2 separate regions of the Homo sapiens genome follow, and region 1 is linked to region 2. Evidence: fine-mapped expression QTL. A gene starts in region 2. The other region holds a variant in brackets. All regions are shown on one strand. Distances are from middle to middle.

The links.
Region 1: its variant is fine-mapped to the expression of SLC28A3 in subcutaneous fat (GTEx, PIP above 0.99). The same link has a PIP of 0.9 or more in whole blood.

The regions. Positions count from the first base shown.
Region 1 is chr9:84,361,199-84,376,489 of GRCh38, reverse strand. It overlaps a transcript of SLC28A3 not described here. Among named protein-coding and RNA genes, the nearest start is that of SLC28A3, 28 kb to the right of the region's middle. RefSeq lists an enhancer at 1-59. The variant C/A (reference allele first, on the strand shown) is at 7,896.
Region 2 is chr9:84,331,202-84,346,492 of GRCh38, reverse strand. SLC28A3 (solute carrier family 28 member 3) reads left to right here and starts at 5,735. Exons shown (of 18, transcript NM_001199633.2): 1 at 5,735-5,919. The coding sequence starts at 5,860.

The DNA of each region.
Region 1 (15,291 bases), 30 kb before region 2:
TGGTCTAAGGGCATTTAGGGACTCACCTAAGATTTTTAATGAAGAAAATGATGTGACTTGCTTTATCTAGAAAAATCATTGATTAGAAAAGTAATTTCATCAGCTATATGGAGATCGATGGAGGGAGGATAAGAGAGCCAGCTTGAGGCCCTGGGAAGAGTTCGTTGACAGCTTCTTGCAGTAGTCAAATGAGAGATAGTAAGACCTGAGGTAGTGGAATGGAAAAAGAAGGGACACATACATTTGAGAAAAACTTAAGAGGTAGATGGGACAAGTTTGGTGACTCAGAGTCAGCCTTGATTCTTGTCTCTCCTTCACAGCCCACATCTGCTCTGATAGCAGGTCTTATCTCCCCTACCACGACACAACCAGTTCTGCACTGCTCAGCCCCGGGCTCTCAGACTGTTATGATTAGCATCTAATGTTCTTCTTGCTTTCAACCCTAATCCATTCTCTACAGAGCAGCCAAAATGTTATTTAGAAATGTAAATAAAATCACATCCACTCCCCATCTCAAAATCCTCACATTGAATAAAATCAAATTCTTTAATCTGGCTTTCAGGACTTGGCTCTGATTTCCTCTCCCACCTCATTGCCAATGTTCCCCCACTTCTGTGCTCCAGCCTTTCTGTTTTTCACCAGCTAAGCTCAGGCCCACCCAAGAATGCCTGGAACTACCACTTTTCTATGCTGAGAATTCTTTCCCTGCCCTCCCATCAACCAAGCCCCTCCCTGGCCTCATCCCTTCCCCATGTCCCAAATATAGTGCTCCCCCCATAATTGCCAGCAACAGTGGTTCAACATCAGTGCAAAATAGTTGTCCATTATCTTAAGAAATTGAACACTCATGTCAATATCAGGCTTAATTGTATACCCCAAGAATTATTGCACATGTGCACAAAAAACATATTCAAGAATGTTCTTAGCATTGTTCATGATAAAAAGAACTGGAACAATTCAAATGTTCATCAGTGGAAGTTTGGATAAGTAAATGGTAGCATTGATACAATGGAATACTATACAGCAATAAAAATAAATAAACCGGCAGGGCACAGTGGCTCACACCTGTAATCCCAGCACTTTGGGAGGCCGAGGCGGGAGGATCGCCTGAGGTCAGGAATTCGAAACCAGCCTGGCCAACATGGTGAAACCCTATCTGTACTAAAAATACAAAAATTAGCTGGGCATGGTGACTGTAATCCCAGCTATTCTGGAGGCTGAGGCAGAAGAATTGCTTGAACCCAGGAGACGGAGGTTGCAGTGAGCCGAGATCGCACCACTGCACTCCAGCCTGAAGTGCAAAGCTCCATCTCAGAAAAAAATAAAAAAATAAAAATAAGTGAACCATAGCTACAAGCTTCAACATGGATGAACTGAATCTCAGGAAATAATGTTGAGGAAAAAAGTGAATTAACAAGTTTCAGAATACACATAGTATGATACTATTTTTTATAAAGTTCAAAAATAAGCAAAACAAAAAATGTATTTTCTAAGGGTACATATATGGTCATCAAATCTATAAAGGAAAGCAGAGATAACTTTCTGACAAGTTTAGGAGGTCACCTTAAGGAATGGTACCCCAAGCACCTTAAGTTGGTTACTTTCAACTGTTCCTAAATGCATGATGCAAATGCCACTTGGAATTGCACCAGCCTTCTTCTAATTCTCGATGATCAGAAAGTCCTTCCTAGACTGGGTTTCAATAATGCCCAGCACAGCTTGATACTGGATTAACAAAGTATTATCATCTCCAGGCAACCAATTTGCTGCAACTTGCCAGCATTAGCAGCATTTTAATCTATAAATAGAGATTTAGATCTCAACCGCATGAGAACAAGACTTCACAAACAAAGAACTCTGCTTTGAATCAGATGTTAGAGAACCCCTTCCTGAGGTTCCTCCCCTTCAGAACCATTTTCTTCTTCCCTTGCTGTGTGACTGTCAGAACCAATCTCAAAAAGGATTTTTCTTGGCAATGTTTGCTTTCTGTTAATTTCTCCCACAACTCTTATTAAAATATCCTTCTTTGTTGGGAGATGGGAGATGTGAACAAGCTTGAAAATTCAAAGTGCTAGTGTTAGGCATCTGAGTGCAATTCATTCACTCATCACAGTGTTATTGCCCCCTTATGATGTGTAAGGAGCTGTGTGGGGAACTAAGGAGAACACAAAGACAAACGTGACATTGTCCAATTTTTCAAAGAGTTTTTAACCCAATAGAAGGAACAGACGTGTAAATATTAATAAATTGCAATAGTACAAGGCATAATGTAACCATTCACACAGGGGCTAGGAACTTGGCTCATAGTCATTCTGTGTAAACTTGGGCACGTGACCTAATGTTTCCAGGCTTCCTTTTTTTTTTTTTTTTTCTTTTTTTTTTCTTTTGAGCTGGAGTCTCACTCTGTTGCCCAGACTGGAGTGCAGTAGTACAATCTCGGCTTACTGCAACCTCTGCCTCCTGGGTTCAAGCAATTCTCTTGCCTCAGCCTCCCAAGTAGCTAGGATTACAGACACCCACCACCACACCTGGCTAATTTTTGTATTTTTAGTACAGACAGGGTTTCACCAAGTTGGCCAGGCTGGTCTCAAACTCCTGACCTCAAGTGATCCACCTGCCTCAGCCTCCCAAAGTGCTGGGATTACAGGCGTGAGCCACCACACCCAGCCTGGGCTTCACTTTTGTTATCTAGAAAATGGAATAGGCCAAGTGCCGTGGCTCACGCCTGTAATCCCATCGCTTTGGAAGACCTAGGCAGGTGGACCACGTGAGCCCAAGTTAGAGACTAGCCTGGGCAACATGGTGAAACTCCGTCTCAACAAAAAAATAGAGAGAAAGAGAGAGAGAGAGGAGAGAGGAGACAGGAAGGAAGGGAAAGGAAGGGAAGGGAAGAGAAGAGAAGGGAAGGGAAGGGAAGGGAAGGGAAGGGAAGGGAAGGGAAGGGACTTGTCTCATATCATTAATGAGAGGAATGAATGAAACATGCATATAAGGAATATGCTACAGGACCTTACCACTCAATGATGAACCATTCCTGTCATTACAAAGTACCCTGGAAATACACTGAAGGGGCCAATTCAGAACGTCTTGTGCCTTTGAGGACAAAAGATTTTACAACACTGTAGACTTGAGTTAAGGCAACCATTTGGAGACAGTACAGGGTGGGTTAAGAGAATTCCAAAGTGCTAAAGGGTCCACTGCACCCCACGATCAATCTGTAAAGGCAGTAGAAGGCCAGAGAGGACCAAGAAGGCTGTGGGTAGGAATTCAGCCACGATTCCATAGACAAGGCATTAGCTCCTAGGTCCAGCCAGAGAGCTCAGCAAACAGTCCGCTCTGAGTAAATGCGAGCATTCTCTTTTTCTAACGAAATCCTTTCCCTCTGACCCTGTATCCCTTGTATTTGAAATAAGAGCAATCTCCAGGGCTCTGCCTGTCTCTACCCCACCTGCTCAGGCACATGATGTTAACCAGGTTCTGATTAGTAGACCATTTACCATCTTAGTATTTTATTTTAATAAATATCAATATCCTCCTCTGGTCTGGCATAAATAAATCACTGCCACCTTGTTCTTCCAGCCATATAAATTCTATTTTGCACTTTTTTTTTGAGTGACAGAGGTTAAAAAAATAGAATAAAATTATGCCTTAATTATGCTGTCAAAGTTTTCTCCAACATTTATCAGGCCTACAGGGGTGGACGAGAACCAGCATGAGGCAAGGCTATGTTTTCAAAGATTTAAAGATGCATAAAATTAATCTTTCATAAGAAACAGATGTACTGTAACTAAATAGAACGAAGAGTTTTATGAAAACGACAAACCCTAACTATAACCCACCAGCAATGCTAAGTTGAAAGCTGAGAGTGTCATGAGCAAAAATAAAGATAAATTAGGGCTACTAGGGGAAACTAAAGATCTGACATCGCCTAAAACCAGGCCAGACAGGGCTTGTATTTAGAGCTCATTAGTTTTGCTTAAGCTAATCCAAAGCAGAAGGTGGCCCTAGAAGCACATAGGCCAAGAAGACATGGGTTCAGTTAGTTTACTCTCAGTACAGCAGCTGAGTGCTGATTTTAAAATGTAAATTTGGAGGCCGGGAGCAGTGGCTCATACCTGTAATCCCAGCACTTTGGGAGGCCAAGGCGGGTGGATCACTTGAGGTCAGGGATTTGAGAACGGCCTGGCCAATATGGCAAAACTCCGTCTCTACCAAAACTACGAAAATTAGCCAGGCGTGATAGAGCGTGACTGTAATCCCAGCTACTTGGAAGGCTGAGGCAGGAGAATTTCCTGAACCCAGGAGGCGGAGGTTGCAGTGAGCCGAGATCACAGCCACTGCACTCCAGTCCCGGCAGCAGAGTGGGACTCTGTCTCAAAACAAAAAAAAAAAAGTAAATTTGATCATGCCATGCCCTACAGAGTCCATCTTCATCTGACTTCATCTTCTACTCCCTCTCCCCAGCTCCTCCACCCTGACCAGGCTGCAGTACTTCTGACACAACTTCATGCTCCCACGTTAGGGCGTTTTTAACAGTTCTTGCCAGTACTTTGACCACAGATATCTTCTTGCACAACCTCAGTGAGTTCACCCTATGAATACTGAGAAATATGAGCCCTCCTGCCCCCTGGCATTTCAAAATCCCTTCCTCTACCCAACTTTTTCCTTTTTTTCCACAGCACTTACCACTTTTAGCATAATACAGTGAACCCATTTGTTATATTTGCTGTTTCTTTTCTCTCTTAAAAGTATTTTTTTAGTTTCTTTTTTAAATTTTAATTTTTAAAAAATCTATGAGGGAAGCAGAGCAAGTTGGCAGAATAAAAGGCTCCACCAATTATCCCCTCCCCAAAAAAAAAACTCCTTAAATGGGAAAACATTCCATGCTTATTCATAGGAAGAATCAATATTGTTACAATGGCCATACTGCTCATTGAATTTATAGATTTAGTGCTATTCCTATCAAACGACCAGTGATATTCTTTACAGAACTAGAAAAAACTATTTTAAAATTCATATGGGCTGGGTGCTGTGGGTCACAACTGTAATCCCAGCACTTTCGGAGGCCAAGACAGGTGATAATCTGAGGTCAGGAGTTCAAGACCAGCCTGGCCAACATAGTGAAACCCCGTCTCTACTAAAAATACAAAAATTAGCTGGGAGTGGTGGCCCACTCCTGTAATCCCAGCTACTCGGGAGGCTGAGGCAGGAGAATCGCTTGAACCCAGGAGGCAGAGGTTGCAGTGAGCCAAGATCACGCCGTTGTGCCCCAGCCTGGGTGACAAGAGTAAAACTCCATTTTGGAAAAAAAAAAAAAAATCAAAGGGTACCAAAAAAAGACCTCAAATAACCAAGGCAATTCTAAGCAAAAAGAATAAAGCTGGAGGCATCACGCTACCCAACTTCAAACTATACTACTACAAACTATACATCAGGGCTACAGTAACCAAATAGCATGGTACTTGTACAAAAACAGACAGATAGACCAATGGAACAGAATATAGAGCCCAGAAATGAGACAACACATCTACAACCATCTAATTTTCGACAAAGTCAACAAAAACAAGCACTGGGGAAAGGACTCCCTATTCAGTAAATGGTGCTAGAATAACTGGCTAGCCATGTGCGGACTATTGAAACTGGACCTCTTCCTTACACTACATACAAAAATTAACTCAAGATGAATTAAAGGCTTAAATGTGAAACTAAGAACTATAAAAACCCTGGAAGACAACCTAGACAATACCATTATGGACATAGGAACAGGCAAAAATTACATGATGAAAATGCCCAAAGCAATTGCAACAAAAGCAAAAATTGACAAACGAGATCTAATTAAACTAAAGAGCTTCTCCACAGCAAAATAAACCATCAACAGAGTAAAAAGACAACCCACAGAATGGGAGAAACATTTCGCAAACTATGCATCTGACAAAGGTCTATTATCCAGCATCTATAAGGCACTTAAATTTTACAAGAAGACAAACAACCCCATTAAACAGTGGGCAAAGGACATGAACAGACACTTTTCAAAAGAAACATATATGTGGCCAACATGCATGTGAAAAAAAGCTCAACATCACTGACCATTAGAGAAATGCAAATCAAAACCACGATGGATACCATCTCACACCAGTCAGAGTGGCTATTATTAAAAACACAAAAAGTAACAGGGGTTGGTGAAGTTGTAGAGAAAAAGGAATGCTTATACACTGTTGGTGGGTGTGTAAATTAGTTCAGCCATTGTGGAAAACAGCGTGGCAATTCCTCAAAGATCTAAAAAGAGAACTACCATTTGATGCAGCAATCCCATTTCTGGGTATATACCCAAAGAAATATAATCCTTCTATTATAAAGACACATGCACACATATGTTCATTGCAGCACTGTTAACAACAGCAAAGACATGGACTCAACCTCAATGCTCATGAATAGTAGATTGGATTAAAAAAATACAATATCTATACACCATAGCATACTATGCATCCATAAAAAAGAATGACATCATATCCTTTGCAGGAACATGGATGGAGCTGGAGGCCATTATCCTTAGCAAACTAATGCAGGAACAGAAAACCAAATACTACATGTTCTCACTTATAAGTGGGGACTAAATGATGAGAACATATGGACATAAAGAGGGGAACAACAGACACCGGGGCTTACTGGAGGGTGGAGGGCTGGAGGAAGGAGAGGATCAGGAAAAATAACAAATGGATAATAGGTTTAATACTTGGGTGATGAAATAATCTGTACAACAAACCGCTGTGACACAAGTTTACCTATATAACAAACCTGCACATTACCCCTGAACTTAAAAGTTAAAAAAAAAAGAACCAAAAAATCACATGAGCCCTCAAAGTACCCCCACCCCTCCATTCCACGCTTGACCCCAGCAGTAGCATGGTGCGGAGCGCGTCTCTGGGCACTGAGGGAGGGAGTAAACAGCAGTTGTAAGGCATTGAACTCAGTGCTGTTCTGTTAGAGCAGAAAGGAAAACTAAACCAAACTCAGCTAACACCCACCTATTGGGGGAGCATTCAAACCAGCCCTAGCCAGAGGGGAATCGCCTATTCCAGCTGTCTGAACTTGAGTTCCCACAAACCTCACCACTGAGGGCTACAGTGCTCTGGGACTCTAAAAAACCTTAAAGACAGTCTAGGCCGTAAGGGCTGCAAATCTTAGGCAAAAAAAAAAAAAAAAAAAAAGTAAATGTGATCATGCCATGCCCTACAGAGTCCATCTTCATCTGACTGCATCTTCTTTTTTTTTTTTTTTGAGACAGAGTTTTGCTCTGTCGCCCAGGCTGGAGTGCAGTGGCATGATCTTTGCTCTCTGCAACCTCCGCCCCGCTCCGGGTTCAAGCAATTCTCCTTCCTCAGCCTCTTGAGTAGCTGGGATTATAGGTGCCCAGCACCATGCCCGGCTAATTTTTGTATTTTTAGTAGAGACAGGGTTTCATCATGTTGGCCAGGCTGGTCTCAAACTCCTGACCTCAAGTGATCCACCTGCCTCGGCCTCTCAAAATGCTAGGATAACACATGTGAGCCACCACGCCTGGCATGACTTCATCTTCTACCCCCTCTCCCCAGTTCCTCCACCCTGACCAGCCTGCAGTTCTTCTGACATGACTTCATGTCCTAGGGCTGAACTGGGCCCAGAGACAGTGGACTTGGTGGGGGGGCAGGGGTGTGGCATGTGACATACTGAGACACCAGCTGGGGTGCCCCTCCTCTAACTCCAGGCTGCACAGCCCTCCGCTGCATAAGACACTCCTTCCTTCCTCTTGAGGAGAGAAGGAAGAGTGGGGAGGACTTTGTCTTGCATCTTGGATGCCAACTCAGCCACAGCAGGATAGGGCACTGGGCAGAGTTGTGAGGCCCCCATTCCAGGCC[C/A]CAGCTCCCAGATGACATTTCTAGACACACCCTGAGTCAGAAGTGAACCTGCCACCTTGAAGGAAAGGACCCAGTCCGGCCAGCATTCAGCATCTGCTAAATGAAGAGCGCTTGGGACCTGAACAACCAGCAGCGATACCCAGGTACTGTATCAGTGTGGGGGAAAAGAAGAGAGATCAGACTGTTACTGTGTCTATGTAGTAAAAGAAAGACATAAGAAACTCCATTTTGATCATATTAAGAAAAATTGTTCTGCTTTGAGATGCTGTTAACCTGTAACTTTAGCCCCAACCCTGTGCTCATAGAAACATGTGCTGTATTGAATCAAGGTTTAAGGGATTTAGGGCTGTGCAGGATGTGCTTTGTTAACAATATGTTTGCAGGCAGTATGCTTGGTAAAAGTCATCTCCATTCTCCGTCCTTTATTAACCAGGGACACGATGCACTGTGGAAAGCCACAGGGACCTCTGCCCAAGAAAGCCTGGGTATTGTCCAAGGTTTCCCCCCACTGAGACAGCCTGAGATATGGCCTCATGGGAAGAGAAAGACCTTACCATCCCCCAACCCGACACCCATAAAGGGTCTGTGCTGAGGCGGATTAGTAAGAGAGGAAGGCCTCTTTGCGGTTGAGATAAGAGGAAGGCCTCTGTTTCCCGCATGTCCCTGAGAATGGAATGTCTCCGTGTGAAGCCGACCATTCATTCTACTCTGAGATGGAGAAAACCGCCCTATGGCTGGAGGCGAGATATGCTGGCAGTGATACTGCTCTGTTACTCTTTGCTACACTGAGATGTTTGGGTAAAGAGAAACATAAATCTAGCCTACGTGCACATCCGGGCACAGTACCTTCCCTTGAACTTATTTATGATGCAGATTACTTGCTCATATGTTTTCCTGCTGACCTTCTCCCCATCATCACTCTGTTCTCCTGCCACACTCCCCTTGCCGAGATAGTAAAAAATAGAAATCAATAAATACTGAGGGAACTCAGAGACCAGCGCCGGTGCAGGTCCTCGCATGCTGAGTGTGCGGGTCCCCTGGGCCCACTGTTCTTTCTCTATGCTTTGTCTCTGTGTCTTATTTCTTTTCTCAGTCTCTCGTCTCCACCTGACGAGAAACACCCACAGGTGTGGAGGGGCAGGACCCCTTCAATCAAGGGCCTAGGGTGAGCCTCTGAAACTTGCTAGCTTCAGATACCAGCACAGCCACAAATGGGCAAAGCACCAGGCAGGCTTTTGGGGTCACATATTTCAGGACCTGGCTTGTGGATATCTCTGGACCTGCCCTGGGCCAGAGGGGAGCCCATTGCCCTGAAGGGTGAGTCCCAGGCCAGGCAGCATTCACCACCAGCTGACTTAAGAGACTTTGGGCCTTAAGAGAATATTGGCGGTAGTATGGCAGTACTTCCTGTGGAGTACTCCCCGTGGCCTGCGGTGGTGGTGGCTATGAAGTGAGGCTCCTCTGCCTTTGGAAAAGGGAGGGAAGAGTGGGAAGCACTGTGTCTTATGGTTTGAGTGCCAGCTCAGCCACAGTGCAGGTAGACTTCTAAGGTTTTCATTCTACTCCCTGAGGCCCAGACAGCACCTCTGGACCCACCAAAGGCCTGGGGGAGCTTGCTGACCTGAAGGGAAGGACACAGGCCTGACTAGCCTTGTCACCTGTTGACTGTAGAGCCCCAGGGCCTTGACAGAACATAGGCAGTAGCCAGGAAGTGGTTACAGAAGGTCTTGGGTGAGACTCAGGGCTGTGCTGGCTTCAGGGCTGACCCAGCACAGTCACAGTGGTGGTGGCCACAGAGGTGCTTGTGTCGCTCCACCCCCAGCTTTAGGTGGCTCAGAACAGAGAGAGAGATTCTGTTTGTTTGGGAGAAAGTAAGGGAAGAGAACAAGAGTCTCTGCTTGGTAATTCAAAGAATTCTCCTAGATCTTGTCCAAGACCATCAAGGAAGTACCTCTACAAGTCTGCAAGAACCACAGTGTTGCTGAGCTTGGGGTGTCCCCCAAAGCAGATATAGCTTAGATTACAACACTCTAGACCTTTCAAATATCTGGAAACCCTTCCCAAGAAGGACAGGTACTAACAAGCCCAGACAGTGAAGACTACAATAAACACTTAACTCTTCAATGCCCAGACACCAAAGAACATCTACTAGCATCAACACCATCCAGGAAAACAAGACTTCACCAAATGAACTAAATAAGCCAACATGGACCAATCCTGGAGAAACAGAGATATTTGGCCTTTCAGACAGAAAAATCAAAATAGCTGTGTTGAGGAAACTAAAAGAGATTCAAGATAACACAGAAGGGTCAGAACTCTATCAGACAAATTTAACACAGAGATTGAAATAGTTTAAAATAAGCAGAAATTCTGGAGCTGAAAAATGCAACTGGCATATTGAAGAATGCATCAGAATCTTAATAGCAGAATTGATCAAGCAGAAGAAAGAATTAGTGAGCTTGAAGCCAGGCTGTTTGAAAATACAGTCAGTTTACAGCCATACCACCCCGAATGCACCCAATCTTTTTTTTGTTTTTTTGTTTTGAGATGGAGTTTCACTCGTGTTGCCCAGGCTGGAGTGCAATGGCACGATCTTGGCTCACCACAACCTCTGCCTCCTGGGTTCAAGCAATTCTCTCACCTCAGCCTCCCAAGTAGCTGGGATTACAGGCATGTGCCACCACGCCTGGCTAATTTTGTATTTTTAGTAGAGACAGGGTTTCTCCATGTTGGTCAGGCTGGTCTCGAACTCCCAACCTCAGGTGATCCTCCCACCTCAGCCTCCCATAGTACTGGGATTACAGGTGTAAGCCACCACGCCCAGTCTTCGAGCACACCCAATCTTGTCTGAAAATATACAGAGACAGTAAAAGAATAAAAAACTGGATATCCATATGCAGAAGAATGAAACTAGAACCCTATCTCTCCCCATATACAAAAATAAATCAAAATGGATTAGACTTAAATCTATGAAACTACTACAAGAAAAGTTTGGGAAAAATCTCCAGGACATTGTTATGGGCGAAAATTTCTTGAGAAATACCCCACAAGCACAGGCAACCAAAGCAAAAGTGAACAAATGGGGTTATATCAACTTAAAAAAAACTTCTGCACAGCAAAGGAAAAATAGCAACAAAGTGAAGTTTTGCAAACTACTCATTTGACAAAGGATTATAATCAGCATATATAAGGAGCTCAAACAACTCTATAGGAAAAAAAATCTAATAATCCAATTTAAAACTAGGCAAAAAGATTTGAATAGACATTTCTCAAAAGAAGACATTTAAATGGCAAACAGGCATATGAAAAGGTGCTCAACATCACTGATCATCAGAGAAATGCAAACCAAGATTACAGTGAGATAGCATCTCACCCCAGTTATAATGGGATATATCCAAAGACAGGCAATAACAAATGCTGGTGAGAATGAAGAGAAAAGGGAACTCTTGTACACTGTTGGTAGGAATGTAAATTAGTACAGACACTCTGGAGAATAGTTTGGAGGTTCCTCAAAAATCTAAAAATAGAGCAACTATATGATCCAGCAATCCCACTGCTGGGTATATACCCAAAAGAAAGGAAGTCAGTATATTGAAGAGATACCGGCACTCACATGTTTGTTGCAGCACTGTTCACAATAGCTAAGATTTGGAAGCAACCTAAGTGTCCATCAACAGATGAATGGATAAAGAAAATGTGGTTCATATACACAATGGAATACTATTCAGCCTTAAAAAACAATGAGATTCAGTCATTTGCAACAGCATAGATGAAACTGGAGATCATTATGTTAAGTGAAATAAGCTAGGCACAGAAAGACAAACATCGCATGTTATCACTTATTTGTGGAATCTAAAAATTGAAACAATGGAATTCATGGGCATGGAGAGTAGAGCATGGTGACCAGAGGCTGGGGAGGGTAGTGGGGGTCTGCAGGGGAGGTAGGGATGGTTAATGGGTACAAAAAAAACAAAAAGAATTAAAAAGACCTACTATTTGATCACACAACAGATTGACTATAGTTAATAATTACTTAACTGTACCTTTCAAAATAACTTAAAAAAGCGTAATTGGCCAGGCACAGTGCCTCACACCTGTAATCCCAACACTTTGGGAGGTGAAGGCAGGAGGATCACTTGAGGCCAAGAGTTCAAGACCAGGCTGGGCAACATAGCAAGACCTTGTCTTTACAAAACAAAGGTCAGGCGTGGTGACTCATGCCTGTAATCCCAGCATTTGGGAGGCTGAGGTGAGTGGATCACCTGCCAACACGGCGAAACCCCATCTCTACTGAAAAAATACAAAAATTAGCCGGGCATCAAGGGTGCATGCCTATAAGCCACTCGGGAGGCTGAGGCAGGAGAATTGCTTGAACCTGGCAAGCAGAGGTTGAAGTGAGCCGAGATCGTGCCATTGCACTCCAGCTTTGGTAACAGAGCAAGACGCCATCTCAAAAAAAAAAAAAAAAAAAAAAGAGTGTAACTGGATTTTTTGTAACACAAAGGATAAATGCTTGAGGGGATGAATAGCCTATTTTCCATGATGTGATTATTACATATTGCATGCCTGTATCAAAACATCTCATGTACCCCATAAATATATACACCTACTATGCACCCACAAAAATTAAAGATAAATTTTTTTAAATCTATGAAAAAAGATAATTTTAAAAATCAAAGACAAACTTTGGTCAGTATGGAAATCAGGCCAGTCTTGGTGGCTTAAGCCTGTAATCCCATCGCTTTGAGAAACCAAAGCAGGAGGATCATTTGAGCCCAAGGGTTCAAGACCAGCCTGGGCAACATAGTGAGACCCCCATCTCTACAAAAATAAACAAATGTTAATCACATGTGCAATTTATTGGAAACACAGTGGGACATGGGTATCCCAACTTCCCATTCTGACTCAGAATGTCTGGGGTGGGGCACAGCCATCTTTTATCTTTTTCTCTGTTAGCAAAACACTTAGATGATTCTGATAAATGCCCTAATCCCATCTACTAGTGAAACTAATAATAATATGGATGTGACAGGATTCAATTCGTGAATATTGAGTGCCTGGCACAGAGGAAGTGATCATTATTTCTGTATTCCCAGCCCTAGAGCACCTTGCTTGCTGTACCGTTTTGGTTGAAAAATAGTAGCTGAATGAACAATGGGAATAGTCCAGTAAAGAGGAATCTTAGTCATCAGTGTACATAATAAATACTTGAAGGTTATGAAGAATACAGATCCTTGATTCCTTCCCATAGACATTTTCCTGCCTTGACTTATTGATTTCTCCCCTCTTGGTTCCTCTCCTACATCACTGCCTGTGCCTTCTCAGTCTCTTTTAAGCTCCTGTACCTTCGTTCAATCTCCTAATATAAGAACATCCCAGATTAGTCCTAGGGACCCTTGTTCTTCTTTATTTACATACTAGTAGATTTCATCATGTTCCATAGCTTTAAATATCATTTAAGGGTTTATGAACTTGAATGGGAAAAAATATTCTATCTTCACTAATCTCTATCTGAAAGTTAATATTTCTTTCATTCGTAAATAAAGCAATGGTACTGTCATATCTGGAGCTCTGTCACCATTCACGAACATGTTCATATTACATTACAGTTATTCCAGACATCCAAAAATATTTTTATCTTTTTTACTACTTGCAAATATGTTAGTTATTAGATTTATAAATCTGTTATTTAATGTATTAATACAAGAGTTATTATATTACTTTATCACAATTTTTTAATACCTACTTATATTTTAATGCAGTTTTCCTTTGCAATCTTATGTATTTTATTTTATGCACTTAAAAGCATCATTCTGAGAAGAGGGCTGTAGGCTTCACCAGACTGCCAAAGCGGTCCATGGCATTTAAAAAGTTCATCACCTTTGATTTAAATGACAATCAGTCCTAAATTTATTTATTTATTTATTTATTTATTAACTTATTTATTTTAATTTTTTTTTTTTAAACAGAGTCTCACTCTGTCACCCAGGCTATAAGGGCAGTGGCCCGATCTCGGCTCACTGCAATCTCCGCCTCCCAGGTTCAAGCAATTCTCTTGCCTCAGCCTCCCAAGTAGCTGGGACTACAGGCATGCACCACCACACCTGGCTAATTTTTGTATTTTTAGTAGAGACAGGGTTTCACCATGTTGGCCAGGCTGATCTTCAACCCCTTACCTCAGGCAATCTGCCCACCTCAGCTTCCCAAAGTGCTGGGATTACAGGTGTGAGCCACAACGCCTGGCCAAGTCCTAAATTTCTATCTTTAGCTCTGACTTTATTATAGCTCCAGCCTCCTTGGCATCTCCACTTGTGTGTCCAGTAGCATCTCAATATTAACAGATGAAGCCCTGGGGCTCTCCCCCAGACTTGCCCCTTTCCCAGTCTCTGCCTCATTATCAGCCTCCCAATTGTTAAAGTTCGAACTCTAGATCCAAGTTACTGCATTCCACTTTCACTCACCTTCAGAACAGCATCTGAAATTCTCTAGTCAACAAGTTTTAGTAACACAAAAAACACTAATAAGTCGGGTTGTCCTGGGAAAAGTCAATTTGGTTCTTTTAATTAAAATAAGGGACACGAAGTACTGGAACACTAAGATGCATTTCCTCAGCAAACCTCCAAACCCTTTCCCTTAGCTGTTACTAAAAATTAATTTTTATTTATTTATTTATTTATTTATTTTTAGAGACAGACTCTTGCTCTGTCGCCCAGGCTACAGTGCCATGGCGCAATTGCTCACTGTAACCTCAAATTCCTGGCTCAAACGAACCTTCCGCCTCAGCTTTCTGAGTAGCTGAGACTACAGATGTCAGCCATTGTGCCCAGCTTATTATTTTTTTTTTTTCCACAGCTGAAAACTCAGAAGTTCATATTGCCTCTTTTGGGGGGAATCTACCCTAGGGGCGTACAGATCAGGGTGGGATAGGCAGATCCTCTAAGATAGGTTTATCACGCCCAGGCAGTACGCATCCTCACAGGGGACAAAACACTCTCGCGGGAGAGCTGGGCCTGAATCTGTCATCCCGAGAGCCTTTCACCTGACAAATCAGAGAGGAGGCACGAGGGAGCACAGAGATCATCTATGGCTTCAACGGTAGGTACAGAGAACAGCATTTCTTTTTCTGAAAACAGGAAAGACATTTTAAGTTGGAAATCCTGTTTCCTGACTTCTTCGTGTAACTCAATAAGCATGTGATGGCTCATATTCTGAAATAGCCTGTAACCCTATTTGCATGTTTAACCTTTTTTTGAGACGGAGTCTCGCTCTGTCACCAGGCCGGAGTGCAATGGCGCGATCTCGGCTCACTGCAACCTTTGCCTCCCAGGTTCAAGCAATTGTCCTGCCTCAGCCTCCCGAGTAACTGGGATTACAAGCGCCCACAACCACACCCGGC
Region 2 (15,291 bases):
CTTCAGGGAGGAAGACAGGAGTCTGGAACATATAACACATCATGCTCAACATAGGACAAGCATTCTACACAATTTTTACAAATTTTCTCTTTACTCCTTTTGGAAATACCGTCACCAAGAGTGACTTCACTATAGAACTGCATGCATAAGGCAGGAAAAACAATCTATTGCCATGTAATTACTTATTTTTCCTTTCATATTTTAATAAAAATGGAGGACTTTTGTGTTTTGGTTTTCTTTAATGAGCTTGTGCGTAGACAGTCCATGAGTTTGCAAATTTTTATAAGCTGAGTTTTAGAGAACAGAACGGGGTATAGGAATTATTTGACTGAAAAGTCTAGTGATTTGGTTGCTACACAATGGTTTCAAAGTTTAAAATTGAGTTTGAGTGACAACGCAATGAAAATAATTCTGAGGAGTTAAGAGACAGTTTTTTAGTTCTTGGCACAAGCTATTTCTCACAAATAATGACTCTGCATGACTGGGGAATTGTTTAAAATGTAGTCTTGTAAAACTGAAAAGGCCTTTCATCTCATTTTCTGATCACAATTTCTATTTCCTAATTGGACAAAATGAGCCATAGCTTCTACCAAGGTGTTACCACTTTAAGTGATAGCCCCATAAATCAAACTAATTCTGGTGCTGCAAGGAGTCAGAATTTTTACTGGTTCTGAAAGCTCCTTAAAGATAGGCTTCAGAAACATACAATTTTAAATTACAAGTTCTCTGGATATGACCATTGTTTTGGCATTTTAGTATCATGGTTGTATATACAATTTACTCTAATTAGGTGTCAATTTTTCCTGCTGGCAGGTACAGTTGGAGAATGGATGAGGGAGGTCACTGTATCTTTTAATCAACACTGTCTAGTGTTGTGACTTGCACAATGATATGCTCCCCCAAATGTTGTTGCATTCTTTTCAAATTTTGTCTGCAGCCAAGGAGAAGAAAACACATCGTTACATTTCTAAAAGTTCCTAAAGCAGTGTCTGCAAGAATGTCAGGCATTGGAGTCACGTTTCTGCAATTAGAGGCTTTAAATGATAGAATGAAGATGTCTGTCTTTTGCTTCAGAAAGTAAGGATCATCCATAACCTTCAACTAGATTGAGTCTTGAGTTGGTGAAGGTTTTAATATCAGGTTGCACCAACTGGTTTCTTCCAACTAACGATTTCTCAAGGAAAGTTTCCCAAATATTTGCTGTCTATTTATCTGTACTTCTCTTGCTCACTTCCACTTGGATTTTTTTTTTTTTGCCTTTGGTAACACAATGACTACTACTTATGGCACATTGCAATGATGGGGAAGAACTAATGAAAATCCCCAAGTCTCATCAATAAGAAGCACGAAAGAGCTAAATCATAAAATTTGGGTGATGTTGAATTATGTGTCAGGCACTATTCCCTGTGTATATTAACTCATTTTATCATCTCAGCACTGTTTCTAAATGGGTATGTCGATGAAAAGAGTTGAACTCTGTTAAATATTTGAAGACATTTATTCTGAGCCAAATATGAGTGATCATGGCCCATGACACAACCCTTGGGAGGCCCTAAGAACATTTGCCCAAGGTGGTCAGGGCACAGCTTGGTTTTATACATTTTAAAAAGGCATGGGACATCAATCAAATACATTTAAGAAATACATTGGTTTGGTCCAGAAAGGCAGGACAACTCAAAGCAAGGGGAGGAGGGGGTTGGGCTTCCAGGCTATAGGGGAATTTAAACATTTTCTGGTTGACAATTGGTTGAGTTTGTCTCAAGACCTGGGATTCATAGAAAGGGAATATTCAGGCTAAGATAAAGATTGTGGAAACCAAAGTTCTTCTGAAGTTTTATAGTGGCTGCCCTTAGAGACAAAGGATGACAATGTTTCCTTTTCAAAATATGTCAAAGAAACATGTTTTGGGGTAAAATATTTTTATTTTCTTCCTTGTCTCATAATGTTATGCGAGTCAGGTTTGAAAGTAAGTCATGATATATAGGGTTAAATAAAACCCATCTGGGCCGGGTGCGGTGGCTCACACCTGTAATCCCAGCACTTTGGGAGGGCAAGGCAGGTGGATCACTTGAGATCAGGAGTTCAAGACCAGCCTGGCCAACATGGTGAAATTCTGTTTCTACTAAAAATGTAAAAATTAGCCAGGCATGGTGGCACACGCCTGTAGTCTCAGCTACTCGGGAGACTGAGGCAGGAGAATCACTTGAACCCGGAAGTCGGAGGTTGCAGTAAGCTGAGATCTGCCACTGCACTCCAGCCTGGGCAACAGAGCAAGACTCTGTCTGACCAAAAAAAAAAAAAAAAAAACCCATATGATGAGAATTTATGATTTGTAGGGCATGACTCCCCAGACCCCTTAGATCATAATTTGGGCAAGATAAAAAAAAAATCAGAGCTTAGTCCTCAGGTACTGTTATCTCCGTTTTATGAAGGAAGAATCTGAGATACAGAGAACTCAGCTACTTGCCCAAATTCCCATGGCCAGTAAGTCTTCCCACCTCAGCCTCCCAAGTAGCTGGGACTACAGGCACGTACCACCACACCTGGCTAATTGTTGTATTTTTTGTAGAGACGGGGTCTTCCTACATTGCCCAGACTGATCTCAAACTTCTGGGCTCAAGCGATTCTCCCATCTTGGCTTCCCAAAGTGTTGGGATTATAGGCATCAGCCAGGTAGTGGATATTTTGTCTTTGAGCCGTGTGGTATTTGTCACAGCTACTCAATTCTGTCCTTATGGGATGATAGCAGCCTTAGACAATACATAAATCAATGGCCATGTTTCTGTTTTTACAAAACTTTATTTATAGACACTGAAGTTTGAATTTCATATAACTTTAATGTGTCAGGAAATATTCTTCCTTTTAATTTTTTTCAACCATTTAAAAATCTAAAACCCATTCTTAGCTCTTGGGCCATATAAAAGCAGCAGAAGGTTAGGTGTGACCCTCAAGCTGTGGTTGGCTGTAGTTATGAGGTAGAGTCCAGGATTTGAACCCAGACCACAGGTTCCTGCAAGCCTTTAATCATTATGTATACACTGTACAGTCTGTATCATGATAACAAGAAAAGAAAAATAACTCCCACAGTCTGAGCTATGTGAGATATGCAAAATCTATCAGGCCCAGAGAGACTGGGCCTCAGTCACTGATAAAGAGAAAACAAAAATAACTCACACAGTCCCAGCTATGTGAGCAATGCAAAATCTATCAGGCCCAGAGAAACGGAGGGTTGGACTTCAGTCACCACTCAACCCTGTGCCCGGGGGCAATTTTTTTTTGCTTTTGTTTTTTGTCTTTTGTTTTTTTTTTGAGATGGAGTCTTGCTCTGTCACCCAGTCTGGAGTGCGGTGGCGTGATCTCGACTCACCACAACCTCCACTCGACTCACCACAACCTCCACCTCCTGGGTTCAAGCAATTCTCCTGCCACAGCCTCCCAAGTAGCTGGGACTACAGGCATGTGCCACCATGCCTGGCTAATTTTTGTAGTATTTAGAAGAGACAGGGTTTCACCATGTTGGCCAGGCTGGTCTCGAATTCCTGACTTCATGATCCATCTGCCTCGGCCTCCCAAAGTGCTGGGATTATAGGCGGGAGCCACTGTGCCTGGCCAGGGGCAATTGTTTTAAAGGAATTTTGTTCCTGACTGGCTGCCTTTCTGTTCCTAGAATGTGTGATACAAATAGCAATGTATAGCCAATCAATAGCTTATGTTATTTTAATGTAAATAATTGGTAAACAACTCAGAAACTCCTTCTTTTCCTTTAAAATTCACTTGTGGCCAGGCACAGTGCCTGTAATCCCAGCACTTTTGGAAACCAAGGCAGGTGGGAAGATTGCTTGAGCCCAGGAGTTCAAGACAAGTCTGGGCAACATAGTGAGGCCCCCAGTTCTACCAAAAAAAAAAAAAAAATTTAGCCATGGGTGATGGCACCTGTCTGTAGTCCCAGCTACTCGGGAGGCTGAGACAGGAGGATAGCTTCAGCCCAGGAGGTCAAGGTTGCAGCAAGCCATGATCATGCACTCCAGCCTGGGCAACAGAACACACACACACACACACAAGAATCTACTTGTAACTGCTACTAAGTGTATATTCAGAGCAACTTGAATATGTGCTCCCAAGTTGCAATCTCAAACTTAGACCAAATAAACTCTATACTTACATTAAGTTTGTCTCCGTTTTTTCCTTTAGGTTAACAATAATAAAAGTAAATCATTCTCTTTATAGAAAACTCAGCAGCATTTGAAGGAGAAAAAAAAAACACCAACTGCCCATAAAATTAAAAACCGAGAAATAACCACTCATAATACTTGGTATTTTCTTACTTTTTCTTTTTCTTTTTCTTTTCTTTTTTTTTTTTTTTTTGAGACAGGGTCTCACTCTGTCATCCAGATGGGAGGCAGCGGTGCGTTTTCGGCTCACTGCAATCTGTGTCTCCTGGGTTCAAGCGATTCTCCCGCCTCAGCCTCCCGAGTAGCTGGGACTACAGGCGCACGTTATCACTCCTGGCTAATTTTTGTATTTTTAGTAGAGATGGAGTTTCGCCATGTTGGCCAGGCTGGTCTTGAACTCCTGGCCTAAAGTGATCCACCCGCCTTGGGCTCCCAAAGTGCTGGGATTACAGGCGTGAGCCACCGCACCAGGCCTTTTCCATTCTTTTGTCCACAGTTTTGCAGTATTTTAAATTGTACTAGGGGGGAAAATCCCTATTTTAAAAGAATTCTACAGCTAATATTTTCATAAAGCAAAGTGAATTGCTTTATGAAAACAAAGCACTTCTATTCACTTTTGATAATTGAATAGCTGGTCACCTTTCATTTACTTGTCACATATCGGCATTTCTGTAAGCTGGATTTTTGAAAGCAGCCCAGTCTGAAGCAGGGATGTAATAAAAGGTTTTGGAATTAACCAAACTTGAATTTGAATTCTCATTATCCCTTTATTAGCTAAATGACACTAAACAAATTGTTAACTTTTCTGTACTTCAGTATAGAATTTTGAGTTGTTCGGAAGAAGAGCCAAGACCCTTACCTACCTACCTATCTGTCTATGTATCTATCCATCTATCCATCCCTGGTATACAGTAGGTGATCACTGAGGGCGGCATGACCTTATATCCTGTGTTCACTCACCCTCCACCCCACCACCACTCCTAGTCTTTAACACCACCCACAGGAAAACAGAGGATTTCACTAAGCACTATAGAGAACGTGTCCTTTTCTGGCTGGGCACGGTGGCTCATGCCTGTAATCCCAGCAATTTAGGAGGCCAAGGCAGGTGGATCACTTGAGGTCAGGAGTTCAAGAACAGCCTGGCCAACATGGTGAAACCCCGTCTCTACTAAAAATAAAGTCAGCCAGGTGTGGTGGCATGCACCTGTAATCCCAGCTACTTGAGAGGCTGAGGCAGGAGAATTGCTTGAACCTGGGAGGCAGAGGTTGCAGTGAACCGAGATTGCGTCACTGCACTCCAGCCTTTTTTTTTTTGAGACTCCATCTCAAAAAAAAAAAGAAAGAAAGAAAGAAAAAGAAAGTGTCCTTTTCTGTTTTGTGCACCACAAGAGTTTTCTCCCCAGGAGTGCAAATAGGATGCCAAAAATGGGGATAAAGGAAAAGATTAATAAGGTGGGCGGGCCAGCACTAGATGCCTCCACCCCGCCAACCCGCCCGCCTCTCTGCCCCACCCCAACCAGGTGTCAGCCCTAGTCATTCAGGAGATTATTGCAGAAGTTTCCAAACTGAAGCAAGCTGTGCCCAGGTCCCTGTAACAGCAGGTGGCTTTCTGACATCAGCAGAGACTGGTGCTTTTTCCCAGGTACAAAGGACCTCCAGACCAGAGCCAGCCAGCAGCAAAAAGAGCATGGAGCTGAGGAGTACAGCAGCCCCCAGAGCTGAGGGCTACAGCAACGTGGGCTTCCAGGTGAGCAGAGCTTTCCTCTTATGTTAAAGGCCTTCAGTGGAAAAGCTGCCCTTTCCTTAGCCCCTTGGCAAGTTTCTTACCTAAGCAGGGAGATTATCAGGACAATACGATTTTTAACGGCACACTTTAAGCCCATTATTTTTTCTTCTTGGGCTCTTCTGGGTTGACAAACCTGAAAAGTCTCTTTTAATCGATGTGTTGTGATCCCTATGGTCACTTAGAAACAAGACAGCCTTCTTCTCTTGCCTTTTTTCCCTTCTGGCTCACAGCAGGGGTCCATTATTTATCTTCAGGCACTTTTCCAAAGAACTGGTGAGAAGGGAAAAATGGGGGAATTTAGATCCTGGCTGGGGTAGTGTCTCAGGGTTCCTTTTACTCAAGCCAAGTCCTGGAGCCCCTGTCAGATGGCCCCGGTACCTGCCCCAGAGCAGCTGGATTACGCAAATCAGTCTCACTTCATCAACCAAAACTCACTGAGTGATTAATGCTGCTCAGCCCGAGGCTGGGTGCCCGCAGAGACATAGAAGGAGACCTGTCAGAAACACCAGGCTATTTTGACTGGGTCTGGGATGGGGATTTCCAGGGCTGTTTTTAGGTGTGCTTCCTTTCCTTAGCTGACACTCAGCATGGGCGCTCTGGAGAAGATGGGAAGCCTGCACCGGCAAGTGTCAACAATCCCTTGGACTTTACGGTCTGCTAGATGGGCAAAACAAAACTTTGAGGTGCTAGCCAAGAAAGGAAAGAGGGAGGTAAAAGGGCTTTGACAGGAGTTCAGACTCCAGCACCCACAAATTCCTGTAACTTCCCAGAGCCCAAGTTTGATCATCTGTCCCATGGTCACAGTGATGCCCATCTCCATGAGTAGGCATCGGGTTACCACTTATAGGTCACAAGTGTAGGAGAGGAAACAACTTCATCTACCCTCTTAGGTTGAGTGCCTGAGGCCTGCAAATTAAACCAACATAAAACAGATTAGCAGGAGAAAAGGCACGCAAATTTTATTCATATTTAAAATCTCACATGTGGCTGGCAGTGGTGCCTCATGCCTGTAATCCTAGCACTTTGGGAGGCTGAGGCGGGCTGATCATTTGAGGTCAGGAATTTGAGACCAGCCTGGCCAACATAGTGAAACCCCATCTCTACTAAAAATACAAAAATCAGCCGGGCATGGTGGTACATGCCTGTAGTCCCAGCTACTCGGGAGGCCGAGGCAGGAGAATCACTTGAATCTGGGAGGCAGAGGCTGCAGTGAGCCAAGATCGTGCCTCTGTACTCCAGCCTGGTTGACAGAGGGAGACTCAGTCTCAAAAAAATAATAATAATAAAATAAAATCTCACATGTATGAGAGCCTCACATAAAAGAAACGGAAAAACCTAATAGACTCAGGAGCTTATATACCATTAAAACAAAGCACGGCAAATAGTGAAATGACTAGACAAAGGAAAAGAGGGTTATGCTTTTAGGGACAATAAAGTGGGGGTGGGAGGTGGAAATAATGGAAGATAAGGGTTAATTTATCGAGGTTTGTTCATGCAGATTTATCTCAGCGGCATCTCTGTCTTTGGTGATAAGGGTTGCTCTCTTCCTTGTATGAGCAAGCGGGACACCTGTGCAAGGGAAATATCAATAAATGTGCTGCTTTTAGGAAGATGGGGGATGGGGGAGGGCAGAGAGCTCTTTCTGTGTCTGCTTTCTTTTTCATAGCCTTCAGTTCAAAATATTCTTGTGCCAAAATGTGGGCATTTGGAGGGTGGCACATCCTGATCTCTTCTCTAAGGGCTAAGTGAGGGGGAAAAGCATAAAGCATGGGCCCATTCTGATTCCAGAGAATGGAAAGGATGGAATTGGATAGAGTCAGAGGAAGTATGGCAGCAAGAAAATATATCTGCAATAGAGAAGGTCCATGTCACAGCAACTGGCTGCTCCCAGGGAGGAGGGCACACAACGGTGGTGATCCCTCACTGTCTTCTAGCAAAACTGCTGTTTTGTGGGGGAAACATCCCCCTACACCTGCCCCAATAAAAAGAAGGAAAAATGAAAGGAAGCTTCCTCCTAGTTCTGTAAAATTTCCTGTCATCCTTACTCATTGGATTGATTGAAATTTGAATTTCTACATTTCAAAATCAAAATAGTGAAGACAATTTGTCTTTCAAGAGAATCAGAGGCCTCATAACTCCTGCCAAGTTAATAAGTATGAGTCTTACCTTGTTTGACATTCAGCTCTCCTGCTACATTATCTTCTTTAAGGAAAATTAATTGATTGTAAAATATGTGCTACTTCACTCGCATTATTAAATATGCATTAACATGCCACCAGGACTTCCAAATAAGTTAGGATGCTTACTTATTCACCTTGTCCTAGTCTGTGAATTGTGCTAGAAATTCATTTTTCTTCTTCAAATATTAAGAGTGCCCTTGGTAGACCAAAGTTCTAATTTTACTAAGTAGAACTACTTTCACAGCTTGAAATGCTGATATGGGTTCCCAAAAGGCCTGTGCCTGTAAGACCTGGTGCAGGTGCAATGGTTATGCATATCTATGGATTACCTGGACAGGCTCTCATCTGGACTGTTCCTCAAAGAAGGGAGCACCAATTGCTGTTTTCATGGAGCTAGTACTCCAGTGGGAAAGGTTAAACAGGAGCACAAAGTCAGTGATATGGGTTATAAGAGAGAAATGATCTCACCTCCAAGAAAGGATTTCACAGCTAGAGCACACTTCATACATGAGAGTGGATTTTGTAACCAACGATAGAAATGAATGTTAGGGTTTTTTTTTTCTAATCTCATTTTATTGTACCTCTAAACGTTTTCTATGAATAAGGAACTTATTTCTCATATGGCTGAGGATGGAAATGACTTCATTCAACAGTAGTTGCAAATAAGACGTTTGCTATTTATGAAGGAAGTTCGGATTGGCATTTAAAGTATTGCGTGTATGTGGAATATCTAAGGATTTCTTATTTTATTTTAAAATATTTTTTAAACCTTAAAACAGTCAGCAAACTGGCTCTTGATTTTGTGCAAGATGTTCCCATCAGTTCAGGAAAAATAACTGCCTGAAAGGACAAAGTACACACACACACGTGTGCAAACACTCACACCCACATACGCATACACACACGCGCGCGCACACACACAGGCTAGCATCCCCAGGCCTCAAGGTTCTAAGCAGGGCATCTCAAACCCAGCAGAGTATCATACCAACAACACCCACACCTAAAAACAGTGACTGGGTTATTTCTATTTATTCAGTAGAATCATCAACTGCCCCCTAGATATGGCCGCCTCTAAGAAGGGATACCAACTCAAGAAAGAATAATATGCTCTTCTTGCCCTCAAGGAGAAGGACAGGCAGAAATAAGCATGCAATTACAATATAATTGATGTTAAGGAAAATGGCGGAGGTTTGCACCAAGTGCATTGTATTCTTATATTTATTATTTTTTATATTTTGTCTTGCTATCTTACCAGGGCTGGTCTGAAACCCTGGCCTCAAGCAATCCTCCTGCTTTGGCCTTCCAAAGTGCTGGGATTACAGTCATGAGCCACAACACCCAGCCAGCACCAAGTGCATTGTAAATAATATATAGCTGGAGCTGAGCTGACTGAGGAGTCTGTGACAGCATCACCAAAGGAGGGAGAATTTGATTAGGGCTTTAAGGATGGTCAGGTCACAGTAGGAGGTGGGGTGGGCAGAGCACTGCAAGCAGAGAGAACTATCTGTACAGACTCAGAACCCTAAAGGAGAAGAGCACATGAGCCTGGGATGGAGGAAGGGAACACGGTATAGGGAAAGGGGGCAGGCTGGCATCAGGTCAGGTGGCCTCTGCGTGTGCTAAGGCATTTTAGAAGGAATCGCTCAGAATTTACGCAGTCAAATTGTGATTTTTTTTTTGAGACAGGGTCTCACTCTGTCACCCATGCTGGAGTGCTATGGTATGATCTCAGCTCACTGCAGCCTCAACCTCCCAGGCTCAAGCAATCCTCCCACCTCAGCCTCCTGAGTAGCTAGGACTACAGACATGCGCCACCACACTTGGCTAGTCTTTGTTTTGTTTTGTGTTTTAGAGATGAAGTCTCACCCTGTCGCCCAGACTGGAGTGCAGTGGCATGATCTTGGCTCACTGCAACCTCCACCTCCTGGGTTCAAGCAATTCTCCTGTCTCAGCCTCCTGAGTAGCTGAGTTTACAGGCATATGCCACCACACCTGGCTACTTTTTTTGTATTTTTAGTAGAGACAGGGTTTCACAACGTTGGTCAGGCTGGTCTCAAACTCCTGACCTCAAATGATCCGCCTGCCTCAGCCTCCCAAAGTGCTGGGATTACAGGCGTGAGCCACCGTGCCCGACCTAATTCTTGTATTTTTTTGTAGAAATCGGGTTTCACCATGTTGCCCAGGCTGATCTCAAACTCCTGAGCTCAAGTGATCTGCCTGCTTCAGCCTTCCAAAGTGCTGGGATTACAGGTGTGAGCCAACTGCACCAGGCTGATTTTTTTTTTTTTAATATTACTTTGGTGGCCCCATTGAAAGTGCTTGGAAAAGGAGAGGGATTTGTGTGTGGCTGGGACATCCGTTGGGAAGTTACTGTCATAATCCAAACCAGGCTAAAGGCAGTGGATGCAGACACTGGGACGGAGGTACTAATACTGATGAGGTGACCCCTCCACAATGAAATTCAGGAGTAAAGATGAGGGCCTAAATGCTGCTCTGGCTCTGAAGATTTCTGTTTTCTCCTCTGTAAAAGAGCATAATAATGGTACCTATCTTGGGATTGTTGAAATAATTAAATAAGCTAATATTATATATGTATAATGGACATTTTATACACACACACACACACACACACACACACACACGTATATACATACTTGTGAAAACAGTGCCTGGCACATAGTATGAACATAACAATAGCAGCTTTTGATGCTGAGCAGCTTAAGGAAAGTGTGGAGTCAATGTTTCCAGCTTGGGATGTCAACTTGGAAGTGATTCCCTTTGTTTATTTATTGCTGTTGTTTTAAATAGAGACAGGGCTTCACTCTGTCACCCACGCTGAAGTGCAGTGGCACAATCATAGCTTATTGCAGCCTCAAACTCCTGAGCCCAGGCAATCCTTTGACCTCAGCCTCCTGAGTAGCTGGGACTACAGGCACGTGCTACCACAACTGGCTAAGTTTTTTTATTTTTTATATTTGTAGAGACAGGGTCTTGCTATGTTGCCCAGGCTGGCCTCTAGTGATCCTCCCATCTCTTCCTGGGTTTCCCAAAGTGCTGAGATTACAGGTGTGAGCCACCTCACCCAGCCTCGGGCAAGGCTTTATTTAGGTAGAAAATCTAGGAATAAAGTTAGAGCAAAAAAGAGAGTGAGTTCTCTTTGAGGCCTGTTGGTTGAAATTAAGTTGACTCCAGGCATCTTCATGAAGGGGTAGATGAAGTAGGAAGCTTGTAGCATACGTTCACCTGGAGCTCAGAAGAGGACACACATTTGGGAGCTGTTAGCATAGATATGAGCGCGGATAAGACCACTGTGAGGGAAGCCTGGGAAACAGTAGCGCTTAAGGAGTGGGGAAGTTAGAGATGTCAGAGAATGAAGCAGAGGGCCACAGGGAGAGAAAGAGCAGCAGAACCAGGAGAGGGGCGATCTGGAGAAGTCAAGGGAAAGTAGAACCACAAGTCAACAGAAAAGACTCCGAAAGGACAGAGGAGTCTATAGAGTGAGGCCACGGGTTCACTTGACTTGCCAGCTAGGAGGTTACTGGTGACGCTAGGGTTGGGGAAGGAGGAGAAGTTTGTGTTATGAGCGGGAGTTAGGCTAGGAAAAATGGTAGCAGAATGAACGCTCTTCTGGTGCAGTGGTGGTGCTAGGGAGGGGCGGGGAAGGGGAAGACCTAGGGCAGGCAAAGGCAGTTGTGGGGAGGTGTTTTTATGTTAAAAAAAAAAAAATTCGTTGTGAAATACAACATACAGAAAAATACATAAAAACAAATATACAACTTATAAGGCGAACTGTCACTCAGGTCAAGAAACAGGATATTGCCATCCCTCAGGGTCCAGCCCTACACATTTCATCACTGCTGCCTCCCTTCCCTGGGGTAAACCCAACCAGGGGTGACTACTGACCCAAATGTGGGGCAATTACTTCCTTGCTTTTCTTTATACCTTAACTTCTAATTATGAATCCCCAAGCAGTACCTTTGCCTGGTTTTGAACTTTATATAATAGAAACACAAAATGTATTCTTTGCTTATATTGAAACTTTTTTTTTGTTTTTTTGAGACAGAGTCTCGCTCTGTTGCCCAGGCTAGAGTGCAGTGGCGTGATCTTGGCTCACTGCAACCTCTGCCTCCCCAGTTCAAGCGATTCTCCTGCTTCAGCCTCCTGAGTAGCTGGGAATACAGGCATGAGCCACCAGGCCCGGCTTGTATTTTTAGTAGAGACGGGGTTTCACCCTGTTGGCCAGGCTGGTCTCAAACTCCTGACCTCACGTGATCCACCCGCCTTGGCCTCCCAAAGTGTTGGGATTACAGGCGTGAGCCACCATGCCTGGCCATCAGCTCTCTAAGATTCACATGGTGTTGCATGTAACTGCAGCTCATCCCATTTCATAATGCACAGGATTCTGCCATGTAAATATTCCACAACTTATACATTTTGCTGCTAGTGGACATTTGCGTTATTAAGTTTGGGGTTTTTGGAGCTTCTACAAACATTGCAGCTAGGGACACTGTTATCCATGCCAGGGGGAGTATCTGTAATAAATTTACTCTGGGGTTGTACTTAGGAGTGGAATTGCTAGGCCACTGGAATAAACATATACTTTCAACTTTGCTGATAGTGTCAGATTGGTTTCCTAAGTGATTTTACCAATTTGCATGCCTATCAGCAGAGTGAGTATTCCCATTTCTCATCATTATTCAGCTGACCTTTTAATGTCAACCATTCTGGTGGGTGTGTAGCAGTATGTCATTGAGTTTAATTAAAATTTTCCTGTTATTGGTTGTTAGATGCCAACTTTTTAAATATTTGCTCAACTTTCTTGCCCATTTTCTCTACTGGATTTTTTCCATTTTTATTTGAAAGAGTTCCTTAGATGTTCTGGTTACAAGCCTATGAAAGGAAATTAAATTTTGGGACCCCAAACTCATTTAACCAAAGGGAAAAGTCAAGCTGGGAACTGGGTCACGCATACCTATCTCCCCCTTTTGGTTCCTAAATAAGATGGCTACAAGATGAAAAGCTACACGCTTCCCCCATGTTTTGCCCACAAGGAAATTCCTGGTGAGCTATAAAAACTTCACCATGGCAATGTAATTGATAACTTATCTTTACAGGTGCAGTCACCCCAGATACAAATGCATATCTGATTGTTCCCCTACCCCATTTCGTCTGTATTATCTTATGTAAAATGCAGATTCTCCACATTTTTCCTTTGCCCCCTTTGTTTACATGAAAACTGTGTGCTTCTCACTATCCCGCCCTTTCTCCTTTAAATTTGGAGCCCTCAAAATCATCTCTGGAGAAAGGGATAGACCTGTCTCCCAGGCAGTTCCTTAACTTTGGCAAATAAATCTGCTAAAATGATTGAGACTTGTCTCATCATTTTCCTCGATTGACAAGCCCTTTGTCAGTTATGATTTGTAAATACCTTCTACCACTGTGAAGCCATCTTTTACTCTAATGGAATATTCTGAGGAACAAAAGTTAATTATATTGGTCCCATTTAGGAAACATTGGGACAAAAGTTAATTATATATGGTCCCATTTAGGAAACGTTGCTTCTCTTTCCTGTATCTTGTCTAAAATATCTTTTCCAACCTGCAAAATCATGAAGATTTTTTTTTCGAACAAGTGTAACTCTTTATTAAGATAAAATTGTTTTTATTAAAGAAATAGATAAAAATGATTAAGTACAATCAAATGGCTCCAAAAGCCTTACAATGAAAGCAACAGTCCTGCCAGTTGTTCTTTCCAGAGGCAAGCACTTCTCATTCTCTCAGTTTTTCCTTCTGGTAGTTACCTTCATGGGTTTTTCCAATTATTATTTTTTTAGTTTTTCAAGTGAATGCATATATTAATACATGAAATTTTTAAAAGCCTCTTCAGTTTATAATGCATCCTACCAGTCCCCTACCCTATCCCTCCTAATTCTCCAGAGCAATGACTTTTAACTCTTTTAGCAATGTCCTCTATTTTTTTCTCACATAACTACTTAGGCATTTCTTGATTGTTTTATACATTATATAGTGATTTCTTGATATGACAGATGAGGATTTAGCTCTTACACCATCACTGTCTTCACTTTTCCTCCCATATTGTCCCAAAGTAGTTACCAGATTTAGAGGCTAAGCAGTCATCACTTCATTATGACAATGTCCATATTGCTCATTGTTGAGAACAACAGGGTATTATGCTCTAAAGTCATTAGGATATTTTCTAAAAGCTTATACTTTCATTCACATTGAGGATCTCTATTCCCCCTGAAATTGAGTTTAATGTATAGTGTAAGGTAGGAGTCAAGTTTGCTTTCCACACGAACATCCACTTATTTTGGCATTATTATTTTTTAAATTTACTTTTAACACCACTCAGTGATCATCAACATTGCTTTAAAAAAGAACCTTTTCCCCACTCCACAGATATTTTGCCACGTGTCCATATTTGGGAGAGGCTTTTTGGAACAGGGCAACTGAAAGATTTTTCCAAACTCAGAGGAGATGGGGAAGAATCCAAAGAGATGGAAGTTAACAGCAACAGAGGTCAAAACAGTTCAGAATTTCTAAGAGGAAAATGCAGGAATGTTTTTTAACACATTTATTAAAAGGCATCTCTTGGAATCCCAACTCAAGTTTCCTCCTCCCTGTGAATAAGCAATCAATCTTACCACAGCTGCTCTCAGAGGCACAGAACCCAAGCTTGCTCTGAAGTTAGTTGGGTGGAACTCACTTACGAAAGTCTTGGGAGAGGACTAGGCTGGGGAAATGGGCCTCACTCTGCACAAACACACAGGAAAGGCTGAGTTACTCCATGAGTAAGCCAGTCAAGCAGGTTTGGAGAGTTTGTTAAATGGAGTTTACAATTTGGGAGATCATGTAAGTGTAAGTCCATCAGGGATCCAAACCTGCTGGAGTACAGGTGTAGACTTCTTGTCAAGCACGTACTTTGAATACAAAAGTTCTAAGGTAGGAAGTAACTATGTTATGTAGGGAAGAAGAATATTGTTTCTCCTTAACCCACTAGCCTGGGAAGTCAATATGAATCACATTGAGTACTCTTTCACATTGCTCAAGAGGCGCTCGGCTGGAGCTTCCTATATTCAATTAAAACACACACACACAAAAACACATGACAATAATTCGCTTTTGGGAAGGAG